2 separate regions of the Homo sapiens genome follow, and region 2 is linked to region 1. A link means that fine-mapping ties the variant in region 1 to the expression of a gene that starts in the linked region. Tissue or cell type: caudate. Region 1 holds a variant in brackets; the other region holds the start of a gene. All regions are shown on one strand. Distances are from middle to middle.

The links. PIP is the estimated chance that this variant, and not a neighbour inherited with it, causes the effect.
Region 2: GREM1 starts here. The variant in region 1 is fine-mapped to the expression of GREM1 in caudate (GTEx, PIP above 0.99). The same link has a PIP of 0.9 or more in cerebral cortex, hippocampus, nucleus accumbens, prefrontal cortex, putamen and spinal cord.

Annotation. Positions count from the first base shown.
Region 1 is chr15:32,663,085-32,670,871 of GRCh38, reverse strand. All of the region lies in intron 10 of ARHGAP11A-SCG5 (ARHGAP11A-SCG5 readthrough), which reads right to left. The region is part of intron 2 of SCG5 (secretogranin V); the gene reads right to left. SCG5-AS1 (SCG5 antisense RNA 1) reads left to right here. Exons shown (of 4, transcript NR_135505.1): 2 at 1,754-1,872; 3 at 4,384-4,433; 4 at 4,955-5,170. It overlaps LOC124903458 (a long non-coding RNA gene), which reads right to left and starts at 7,281. Exons shown (of 2, transcript XR_007064573.1): 1 at 5,307-7,281; 2 at 3,752-4,069. RefSeq lists an enhancer at 158-690. The variant G/A (reference allele first, on the strand shown) is at 4,118.
Region 2 is chr15:32,715,901-32,720,900 of GRCh38, reverse strand. It overlaps GREM1 (gremlin 1, DAN family BMP antagonist), which reads right to left and starts at 2,897. Exons shown (of 2, transcript NM_013372.7): 1 at 2,740-2,897. GREM1-AS1 (GREM1 antisense RNA 1) reads left to right here and starts at 2,036. Exons shown (of 2, transcript NR_109767.1): 1 at 2,036-2,356; 2 at 2,537-2,800. RefSeq lists enhancers at 1,597-2,174, 2,175-2,753, 2,891-3,391.

The DNA of each region.
Region 1 (7,787 bases):
ATTGAGCAACAGGGCTCAGGACATTTGAGCTTTTTACTAACATCAGTGCCTCCTCATCAATTCAAAACTAAATAAAGTCATGCTTTGCCTAACAAAGTTACAAATCCAGGCAGCATAATCCCTTCTCTCAAGGAGCTTGCTCTCCAATAATAGGGGACAAAATATGTCCACATAAACACACATCTGATGTTTGTGCCTGGTGGAAGAGATCATGAGCACTAGCGGAGAAGAGAAATTTGTCTCCCATAATGGGAAAATGAACACACAATAGTTTATACTTAGAGATGGATATTATCACCTCAGCTCTCCTCCCTAGTAACAGAATTTAGTTTAAGCTGTTTAGAATGGTGAGGGTTTATGTTGCAATATCCACATTCTCTAAACTCACATGACAAGTGACCCCCAAAGCACACAGCATTTGGTAATTGAGAAAAACAAAGGAATGATTCTATCTGTGCTGAATTGGCTAATTCATTGACTTGCCTCAGGGCAGAGGGCTGGCCCTGGCAGTTTGCTAGAGTGATCCTTCTGCTCTGAATTCGAGCCTGGTCCCTCACAGGGACTGCCCCACATAGCCGGCAAGGGCAGACACCCTGGCTGGCACTATCCTGTCCTTGTAGGAGAGATCTAAATTGGGTTGAGCCTGTTGGCAGATAAGCAAAATGAAACCCATTCGGATATTTTGTCTTGAAAGGCATTTGTTTTCATTCCTTCTCTTTCTTCTTCTGCTTTTCCCCCTCATACTAGGATCTAAAAAACTCAGGCTCCTTGGGGACCAAAGCCAACATTATCATCATCTACTCAGAGGCACGCAAACAGTGAAGGCAGAGACGCAAATTCTGAGTGCACTGCATTTGTAGCTTTCACATCTACATGTGGTCCCAATTTAGGATCACAAGCAGAGTTGTTTATTTTAGAAAAGCTTTTTAGTTAACTTTTAAGGTATTTTGCTTAAGCATTGCTTGCTTTCCAAAAGGAGAAAACGTGTATTTTTTTTTTTTTCTGAAGCGGTGTTTGTTTTGGCTGTTTACTCATTTGCAAAAGTTCAAATTTTATCCTATGAATTTAACTAATTTTTCTGTAGTCACCACAAACCCCACCCCCTCTAACACATACACACAAAACCCCAAAATAAAATAATCTGGAAGTGAAGCATTTTTAGGAGAGGTGTGAATTTAGCAGGTTTTGAAAAAGCCGTTTCAAATAGGTAATTTGCAATAGCACTTTTAGCTCCTTCATGTAACTTTTATTTGCCGTCTGAAATGAAGTCTCAACTTGGCAATTTGTATGAAGGCTAAGCATGTCTTTATACTAAGGTTAAGGCTCATGTTTGTCCTTTAAAAACTTTATTTTATAATTCTTGCTGAAATTATATGGCTTAGCTGAGGGTCAGAGTGGAGCTTAAGTTGAGGTATCAGTTATTATTGAAAAAATAACGGGATATAGAACTGTGGTGGTGGTGGTTGGGATTCGGTGAGGATATGGACACAAAACTGTGAAAAAGTAAAAATATGGACTTGGGCTCTCTAGCATCTGGTTCCATATACAGGCCTACCGCCTCCAATTATCTAAAGCTCCCACTTCATCTTCCTTTCTGAAACTACACTTACTTATGACATCATTTGTCCAGAACCTGAGCCCCACCTCTCTGTTCTCAATGACATAGCAGGTCCTATGTATCATTCCTTTGGGTAAGCTTCTCTACTAACATGATAATGAGTGCTAATTAACATGTAGTACTCTGCTCCTGTAGGATTTGCAACTTAGAGGATTTCTGGGATAATTCTCTTAAAGTAGTGACTTCACCAACAGGAATTCCAGGCCCCCTGGTGTGCCAGCTCAAGGGATAAGCAGAGTATGTCGGGTTCCCAGGTAAGGAAAAGGGGCAATGGCAATGACAATCCTGCAGGCAGAAATAAAGACATTAGGGGCCAAACCAGAGCCAGGTAAATGCATAGGAAGTTTATAATTAGTGACCCAGCATCCAAGGAGATAGCTTCCTACACTTAAGAAACGAGTAAAGGAGATCTGCAGGAGCTTAGGGAAGAGAGAAGCAATGAATGGCTGAGCCAACAGATGACATTAACACCAAGACACCACCGTGAGAGTGGAGGTGACCCTCCGCCCCAGACCCAAAGCTCTCTGATGGTTTCTGTTGAGGGTCACCTTCCAGTCAGCCTGGGCTTCACAGAGGAAGCAGGTCACTGGGGACTATGGTTGAGGAGGTGTGGATAAGGGTTAGCAGGAACTGTGTTGGACCCATTCTGGATGGGATGAGGTGGGAGTGGCAGGGCCTGGCAGCGCTGTGCCCATTCAGAGCCCCTTCCACCAGCTGACCTGGTTCCGCACTGGCCAGGGGAGTGGTCCTAGCACAGATTTTGGGTACACGGCTTGGGAATGTAATTATTCCATCATGTCACTTCCACCCATATGTCTGTAGACTAAAACGAGGAGACTCCATCTGAGTCTGACAAGGCCTTTTGGGCCACGACAAGGAACGTGATTCTCACTTGGCCTTACAAATTCGTACCTGAATTAATTACCATTCCTCTACTTCTTTTTCACTATCCTAAGCTGCTGTAAATCCATAAGTGTTCTTTATAAATGGCTAGAATAAACATTTGTTTTAGACAGTAATCTCATAGAAAATTCTTTTCTGTTTCTGAGTTCCCAGCAGCTACTACTATTTTTTGGCAGCTGGTGGTGGGGTGAGGGTTAATTCTAGCCTCGAGAGGAGAAGGCACGTGGTGTGTACGTTGGGGAGGGGCCCAGACTAAATCCTCTACAACCCTTTGGTAATGCTTTCCTGGCCTGTGGTTTCCCATCTCATACAAATATTCCCAATTTCTCTCTTTTATATCCATGTAACCTCTGCCTGGCAATAGGTATTAAGAATAAAGTGGGTCCGGTGGCTCATGCCTATAATCCCAGAAGTTTGGGAGGCCGAAGCGGGTGGATCACTTGAGGTCAGGAGTTTGAGACCAGCCTGGCCAACATGGTGAAACCCCATCTGTAATAAAAATACAAAAAAGTTATCCAGGCATGCTGGTGTGTGCCTGTAGTCCCAGTTACTCGAAAGGCTGAGGCAGGAGAATCACTTGCACCCAGGAGGCGGAGGCTGCAGTGAGCCGAGACTGTGCCACTGCACTCCAGCCTGGGCGACACAGTGAGACTCTGTCTCAAAAAAAAAAAAAGAATAAAACTACAACAAACCAAACAAAACAGTATTCACTAGTTATTATCAACTTTGTGCCAGACCTGGAGCCAGAACTCAATGTTATGTTAAAAGAGATAGACTCAAAGGCGGCCACAAAGCTGTGTGGACAGTGATGAGCAATTCGTGCCTTAAAGTCCAAAGGAGGTGCCTCCGGCAATACGCTCAGACAGCTGCAGCACTACACACAGACACTGGAAATACACCTCACAGAATTCTTCTGATTCTTAAAAATGGCAAGTCTCTTACCCACACATGGTAAAACGGGTGAAGAAAGCACACATAACTCAAATTCATAAAAACACCAAACTTATCTTTAAAAATGGGCTTCAACCTTCCCATCCACCCACTTCCAACCAAATTTTTAACTAGAACTATTGATGAAAAATAATGTTGGCCTGAGTCAGTTCTAGTCCCCTTTATATATTATTTTAAAATAGTATATAGCAGTGCTGTTCTATAGAAATAGAATATGAACTACATTTGTAATTTTAAATTGTCTAGTCTTCTCACTTCAAAAAGTAAAAAGAAATAGTGAAATTAAATAATTTTTAATCCCAATATATCCAAATTATCATTTCAACATGTAATTGATATAAAGAATTGCCAAAGAGACTTTTTATATTCTTTTTTGCATACTGTCTTCCAAATAGGGTGTGTAGTTTATACTTAGAGTACATCACAACTCCAGCCAGCCATATTTCAGGTGTTCAGTAGCCTCTTGGGCGTGGTGAATACCAAATCGGTCAGAGCAGGTGTATAGAGGAGGCTAGACATGGCGATCAAAAGTGCAGCCTGCAATCCAGATGCTTGAGTTTGAATATTGGCCTCATCACCTTAGCTGTATGACCTCATCTGTAAAACAAGAATACTTAAGTAATACCATCCTTAAGCCGTTGGTAT[G/A]AGGATAAAATAAAATAGTCCTTGTAAGGCTTTTTGCAAGAATTCTGGCAAATATTGTGCTTAATAAATGTTAGCTAGGGTGGTCACTTTATAATGCATGAGCTCTATACTTAAAAACATATGTGGTCCTGAACAAGTTATCTTACCTCTTTGAATATTAGTTTCCTTCTCTGTAAAACAGGGGTGATAATAATACTTCATTGAGAAGATTAACTGGTACAAACATAGCACTTAATAAATGTTCGTTTCTTTCTCCTTGACTTTAGGTGCCAATGAACAGAGAAATAGCCAAAGGGCTCGCTGAGTGGGAGCAGAGGTAAATGGGCCTGGATAATTGGAAAACTGGATAGTCACGAGGTTAACTATGCCACAGGCAAGAATCCAGATGGTTCCAACCTACCTCAGCCAGTGTGAGAATGCCCAGTAGATGTGTTTCTTTTGTAGTTCCTTTACTAGAAGCTTTATAAGAGCAGGCATGTTCACTGTTTCACAGGCTAATAGAAATAAAGTATGTATGTGCATCTTATGTAACATATCCCTACGTATGTATGCTGAATTCAGTAGGCAGCCATGTTCAGTATTTTAGAGCTGTAGCCATCACTCAACTCCCTTGTGTTGATAAGAAGAAACATTCGGGGAAAAGAAGACCTATTTGTTTATTGTAAGATTCAAAATCTCTAAGGGTAATGGCCTTTATTTCTTTCCTACTCAGAAGTTTGTTTTTCCCTATTTAATAGCTCATACAGGATTTTGAAAAAGGAAAACTTAAAAATTTTAATTAGAACCATATCCTAAATATCCTTCTGCTCTTCTGCATGTTTGTTTATTTTTTCTTAGGATTGATTTGTTCAGAGTTTTGAAATTACCAGGGAAGAGCTTTTGAGGATGTTTGAGATCCATGATTCAAAACAGGGAGGGACACATGAGTGGCAGGTGACATCAGAAGCCACCAGCCATTCCTCAAATTGCCAGCTCTGGAGCCCTCCATCCTGCACTAGAAGGAGATACTGCAAACCCTGCCAAGGTGTTCATGCTTCTCGTGCTTTAACATTTCAAAAAGCTCAATTCCCAAAGACAGTGAAACTGCCACGAAAAACAAAATGAACTCTGGATGACAAGGAGGCCCAGTCATTTCTCCTATCAATGGAAAGGGCAATTTTGATCAGAGACAAATAGTACTTGATTTTACCTATAGGGACTTATGACTTATTCACAGCTCTGACTCCTCTTCTCCACAGGAATTCAATAATGTAAACCTAATAATAAAAAATGACATAAAATGAATGTAATGAGAACACCCTAAAACTAGTTTCCCTCCTGGCCTATCTCCATGTTGCATCTTTCAGAAAGTGTCAGAAACGAGACTTAAACAAACAAATAAAAAAAAAAACCCCAAACCAGAACCTAATGCTGATGTGATCGTTTAAATAAACTAAACACAACTGGATAAGGAAGCTGTTTTACAAAAATAAAAATAGAAAAAAATTTCTTGACAAGAGGCATGGATTATTCAGGATCCCTGTGTTATTCTAATTGTTTCAGTGCTATTAGGTGCATTTTAGGGGAATGTGGCCCTGATGGATAAATGCACCTTTAATTCATTTCTAAGGCAGTGATGTGAGATATAAGACTTTTTTGGGTAGGCACAACCCCAAAAATGTCATGTAAATCTTGAAAAGTTTTTCATCCAAAAACCCCAAAGGGTTTACTCATCTCAACATCTGCATTTGATAGGCAGAGGGAGAAGAATGACTACAAGAGGAAGATTATCTGAGATTAAAACTGGAGACCTCCTAGAGGCTGGGCTCCCATAGGCACCCTGGCCCAGACCACAGCAGGGAGGGAATTCCTCCATTCTGCCTTTGTGCCTCATCTCCTGAGTTAGAGATGGTAGCTTAGTTTCCTTTCTTGGTTCCCTTCTGTATTCCTTACAGATAAAGAGATGTTCAATACACATGTGTTGGCAGAATGGCCTCCATTTTATAAGAGTGGAGGTGACTTAGCAGGACACATGCTATTTATACAAACAGAAGAACCTAGCAGCACAAACATGAGTAGGGATCTCTTTATTACTGCTCCTGGAGGTGGATTTATAGTGAAGTGAATGAGGGCCCCTCATGGGCGCAGACTGCTTCCAAGGCCTGGAACCTAACTTTTCATTTGCAATTGTGTGTTATTTTTCTTGAAAAAAGTTTTCAAATTGCATGAGTTTCAGGCCTCACAAAACTTGAATCTGCTGTGGATTGCTCTTAAAAGCGGTATACAAACGCCATCTTGGATTTTTCACCTGTCATTATTTTAACTCCTAGTCATCCAAAGCAAATATAAATCAATTAGTTTTGTAGCCATGGACAAACGAGGCCTGGGTTTCCTCATTTCTGAAAATGAAAGGTGATTGAATATGATTCCTCAGATCCCAAAAGAGAGCAATGTAGGGAAGGAGGGCACAGTGAGAAACAGAAGGAGGCAAAGGCTAGGACACCCTGGTGCTGGCTACACTACTAATAGCTGGCGTATGACCTTCAGTGAAGAACTTTACCTCTCAGGGCCTCATTTTCTCTACTATGAAATGAGGCAGGCAGACAAGACATTCTCTAAGGTCCCATCTTGTCCCATGATTCCAGTGCCCTGACTTGTGCAGTGTGTCACCTCTCATGGCCACTCTCACTGGGTGCTCACAGTAGCCCTGAGACTAGTCAGTGGAACACTCTGGTGAGCTTCAGAATTCAAATTCAGTGCTCTTCTTACTATACCACATGGGAGATATTTTCCAGCTAAACCGTAAACAAGGCTAATATCATTGGTTTGATGGCCTTCAAATATGCACTGTTGTCATGCCGAGTCAAAGATGATAGTCTGACATAAACCAGCGTTGCAGTGTAGATGTGGCGAATGACAAGGGAGTGGCTCCTTTCCCACAAGAGGCACTGGACTTGAAGCTGCAGCTGGTACAGCCCATCTGCAGGGAAATGCCATTTTCTTCTCATGCCTCTGTTCAAAACTTGAGTCCCACTGCTTACAGCTAGACAATCATTAGAATCACTGGTGGCACTGAAAAAAATCCCAAGCAGCTCAGACTCCCTGGAACTACCATATTTGAATTCCTGGAGAGATTAGGGGCCAGGAATCTTTCATTTTAAGCTTCCCAGGTAATTCTGATGATCCACCAGGTAGGAAAAGTATTGTTCTACGTAGTTTTCTCTGTCCTAGCCAGCCTGGAAATGCTGTTTCTTTTAAAACAGTAAGTCTATCTGGATACCCTGATGCCTCCTGCCACAAAGTCAAGCTGGTATAGCATTGGCTAGGACAAGCAGTGACAGCCACAAAAGACCACCTATTCTGATTCCATTTATATGAAATGTCCAGAAGAGGCAAATTCACAGACATAGAAAGTAGAGTAGTGGTTTCCAGGGTCTGGGGAAAGGAGACTGAGGGAAGGAGTAAGGAGGCAGAGATGGGGGGAATGGCTAAGGGGAATGGAGTTTCTTTTGGGGCAATAAAAAATCTAAAATTGATACTACTATGTGAATATACCAAAAACCATTACATTGTATACTTTAAATTGTTGAATTGTATAGTATGTGAATTATATCTCAATAAAGCTGCCATTCATATATTATATATGTTATATATGTATATATGTATACATATGTGTATATATAACATATTA
Region 2 (5,000 bases), 51 kb before region 1:
ACCGGTGTGAGCCACTGTGCCTAGCCCAGCCAGCAGTTTAAACCCAATTCTATCTAGCCCCAAACACAGGTCCTTAACCACTGTCCTATTGACACCCAGTGCTGTCCTTAACAGTGGGTCAATGGATATGTTTTCTAATGCAATACAATTTGAAGAGTGCTATAAATAAAATAATTATCTATTTTGTATCTTCATGTTCACATGTGAATAAAAAGATTTCTCTTGTCCCAGGAATTCCTGTTGTACTTTGAATTTCTAAGAGCATATGTTAAAACTAAAGAAAATTCCTTGCAGATCGAAGACACGGGCTGGTAGCACTTGCCTGATGGTTGCCTTTTGGTTAGAGGCTGCAGTCACCTCCCCTAACCACTGTCCCCCACCTGCCTTTCCTTTACATAAAAGGTTTATATTTCCTGGCTGTCCTTTACTCTCTGTTGTGGAACATGTTCCACAGCTTTGCTGTCAACAAGCAGTTCTTGGGGGAGGTGTCTGCGGCATGAAATTTCTTTGCATTTTATCACTTTTAATACTTGACCATTCAGACTGAAGGCATCTTCGGCTTAGTTTCAAAGACAGGGTAGGCAGCCCTCATTCAGAGATGTAGGACATAAAAGGTTTTTATCCTTCCCTGTGTAACTACTCACATAAAGACCGCATTAGCCAACCTGGATTTCCTACAGAGCGTGGGTTACCAAAACATTTCACTAAAAATGAACTTTTAAGAAAATAGGAAACCTGTGAAATTACAAAGTTTACAAAAGACTCTAATTCCTACAATGACCTGGAGGTTAAACACACACACACAGACACACACACACACACGCACACATACTGCCACTACCCTGCTAAAAATCCCTGAAATAGTTAATATTAACAATTTGACAGTGCCATTTATCCAGAGATAGTAATCAAATCACCTACTGTTATAGACTTGGCTTGGGGGGCAGTGAGAATATATAGTTTTCTTAAGATCTTTCCCTCCTTGCTTTGAAAAGTACATCCCCCCCTCAAGACTCTCATGCTCCCCCTCCTTCCAAAAAAAGAGAAAAGGGGAGGGGGAAGCCCTAGGGATGAAAGAGGACTCCTCACCCTAGAATGGGGTTATCTTAACCTCTTCTACGCTATTTATTTAACTTGTGTGTACAGCCAGAAGGAAGCCACTACTCTGGGGTCCCTGGGACAGCTTAAAACCCTAGTGACCCACTTAACACAATAGATTGTTTTAATCAGTTCGTGTCCTGGCACCATCTCGAAGGGGAACATAAACAGACGCGCACACCGCTCAGATTTGCTCTTTCCAGCAGGAGATCCAATTACCTATCGGTGGTCACCTCTCTGCCCTCGGACCGTTTAAGAGGGGGATTTTAACCCCTAACGCTGAGGCTGTATTTCTGTCTATAAGAGCCGAGATTCGGAGTCGGTCGAGGAGGGGAAGGCAGTAGACGGATTCGACCCGGGAATGCATTAGGGACAGCTCCGGGCGCGCAGGAATTTCTTCACAGCAGAGGCTGGTCACCTGCCGTCCGTCCCTCCCCGCCTGGCCCGGTGACCGTCGCCAGAGCCTGGCGCAGGCAAATAAACGCCAAGCTGGGGCACCCCCAAGGAGGAGCTGCGATCCGAAGGCAATGCCAAGCGAGAGCGGTGGCGCGTCTGTTCTTCCGGAGTCTGTAGTCTACAAATAACTCCGGCCAGCAAGGAGGTGACAGCCCCAATATACCTCCCACTCCCCTGCTATGGCCTTGCTCCGCAAGCTGTGGAGGGGCCAGCGGAGCCAGCCAGGCAGCGAGAGAGAACGAAAGACGCCCAGCTCGTTGCAGCCGCCAACCCGCCTCAGCCGCCAGTCCCTAGTCCTCAGGAGCTAGTGAGGCGCTGCAAGGCGAGGCTGGGGCCTCTAGAACACAGTTTAAGGGGTGCGCGCGGAAGTGGGAACCAGCCGGTGGCCGCTGCCCGGCGCCAGAACGTCTACCATTCAGCCCGGGCGTGCGCGGGGCGGGGAAGAGGCTGGAGTAGAGAAGCGAGCGCCCGCGAGTGCGTGGCCGGTCCGCGAGCGCGTGTGGTGTCTGCCTTGTGAGCACTGCGGGTTCGCTGGACCCCGCGGCCAGGGCCGCGCCCCGCACCGCAGCTGTCGGATTACCCACCGTTCGGTTTTCCGCTGTGGCTGAACACAGCGGCTCTGCCCTTGCCAGTCTCCATCTCACCTCGGGGATCGGCAAATGCACACATCATGGATTCTCCGGATGCTCCAACCCGCGGACTCCAATGGGCGCCCCAAGACGCCCCCAGACCCAGCGCGGCGCCCCAAGCACATGGGACCCTCTCAAGGCAACTCGCCGCGCAGTCAGCGGCCGACTAGCAGGTCCGGATGCTCCTGCGCTCTGGCGGCCTGGACTTCGCGCCCTCGCTAAGCGGGCGCGTCTGCCAGGCGCTGCTGCCACCAGCACCAGGAGCGTGTTCGGGGGCCTCCGGGAGGTGGAAACGGGATGTGGGGGTCATCCTGCCCGCTCCTGACAACTTTTTTTCCTACGTTTCCCTGCAGACCCAGAGCAGCGAGGTCACGGTGTCCGCGGCCTCAGCAGGAAGGACCCCGCGATGGTTCTTCACAATTCACCCCCGCGAACAACGCACCCGAGCCTGCGCGCACGGAGGGCTGCCGCGCGTGGAACTGAGCGGGTCCTGGGTTGGTTTGCGGCCCTCTTCCCTCCGCCCACTCACATCCCTGCCGGGTGCGTCCGCGCTCACCTGTCAGTGCGGCGGGTCCTCGGGGCCTGCGCTTTCGACGCGTGGCGCTGAGTGCGGCCGCGGCCAGAGCCGCCGGGGCTCGGCGCGGGGTCAGCGGGACCGAGAGTGACGCGGCGGCCGTGCACTGGGTCGCCCGGTCCGCGGAAGGCGCACCGAGTGCCAGGCATCGCGCCGTCTCCCGTTTAAATGCCGGCGGCAGAGCGCGGCGCCCGGGGCCGCGCCTCTCCATTGGCCAGGCGCCGCCGCCGCCGCCAGACCCGCTATCCGCCCCCTTTCCCGGTACTGCCCCCGCCCCCCGCACCCCTCCTGCTTCCCCGCGGGGTCCCCTCTCCGCCCGCCTCGCCTCTTTGTCTGCTCCCCCCGCCCGGGCCGGCTGGGAGAGGTCACCCCAGGGAACCGCGCCTGGAATGCACAGCAAATCACATTTTCCGCTCCCGTTGGAGAGGGAAGAGCGGGAGGAAATCCCCCCGGCTGGCGGCCCCTCATTCCTTCTCTGCCCCAGGTCTGGGCTTTCCCTGTCGGCCGCCCGGCATCGCCTGCGTTGGTCCCGCGCTCAGTAGCGGAGACTGCGCTGGGAAGAGCGAGATCTCCGTGGGATCGTGCCAGATTCGGCCATTCTTCCCCTCTGGAGGGAACGGGACTGCGGGATGCTCTGGTCGAGCGGCCGTCGTGGCTCCCCGGCGGCCCCGCCCGAGGCCCCCAACTTCGAGGGCGCTGACCCCGGCGCCCCCGTTAACCTGGCGGGCTCGCTGGCCGCCAGCAGGAGCCTGTCGCCAACATGACACCCTGCTCTCCTCGCCCGCCAAGGGTTCTTTCAGCCCAGATGCCGGCGGCCTCCCCTGTGAGTGTACAGAGGGGAGTCACGGGAGGAGAATAAAACTAAATGACCGTCAAAAGTCAAGGCTTCTGTTCCTAAATTATCTTAAGAGACAGAGAGAAAACAGCCACTGGGCGAGAGGGGTTTTCTGTAGCATATCAAAGACGAATAAGTCAGGAAAATAAAACGTTAGATGAGGAAGTAACTTCCCAGAAATTTAGGACAAAAACCTACCGACGTGTAAAACCAATGTCACATTCCGGATACCAAGTACATAAATAGTTTTCGAAAGATGAGCGAACACTTTCATTTGTTCTCTTAGCCTGAAAAATTGGTTCCTCAAAGAGGCCGTAAGTTTTGTGTGTTGAAGCTAAAGTCCGTGCAAAAATTAACACGTCTGCAAGATCTGCAGACCAGCTCCATCAGCCACGTCAAATGAAGACTTTGAAAAAGATTTGCTACAGAAGGAAATATGAAGGTGTCTGTATTGTCTAACGCGAAATAAACAAAACAATGAAATCCATCAAAAGATACTTACGAAACACCCGTAATTTAAGTACTTGACTAGGAAAACAAAACCAGACCAGAAAACAGCCTATTTTTTTTTTCTCTTTAGTCCGGCGTTAGGGGGAAGAAGCAAGAAACATCTACTAGATGCTGTTAGGAACGTGAAATAGATATTTTTAAATAAATGAAGCAAGAAGGACGTCTGCATTAGTATCCTTAAAATCTTAGTCCTCTCAATGTTTTGTTTGTGCAGATGGCAGTTTCTACACATGAACTCGAGGCTGCACTTTACAATTCTCAATCAGTTGTTGTTAAGTCATGCAGTGAGCCACAGTTTGTAGTTGCCTACAGAATGGGAGCATTGAACCAGCTTGAAGACCTGTCTTGCTCACGTGGGCTCCTGGAGAGATAGGTAATCAGAAATACACAAAATACTTAGGCGATGACCAGTTCAGTCGAAGCCCACCACCAAGCTGTATTGGAGCCAGCTGTTCTCCCAACGTGCAAACTGCTGTACTTCTCCCCACAAAAGGGAGCATATTTTACAAATTCATTAAGTCCTCCTCATCTAAAATAAAAGCTTTAGTCACTTCTTTTTTTCCCAAGACTTATATACTGCCCCAAATCAAATACAAAGAAGCTGAAATTACCTCCCAAAATGGAAGTGATTTTTTTTTTTTGGAGCCCTGACACTGTGGTTTTCTCTATCTCCATGTATCAAATCATGATGACTCTTCCTCATGCAGTTTCTCAGGCCATATTTTTTATAATAGAGCCCCCACCTCCTCCCCACAACACACGCCCCCTCTCTGTATCCCAAAGAGATAGAGAGGGCTATGCATCACTGCATCATTTTTCTTCATTCTCATTTCTCTCTCCCTTCTCCCTGGCATTATAGTATTTCCTGCCACTAGAATGTAAGGTTCATAAGGGCAGG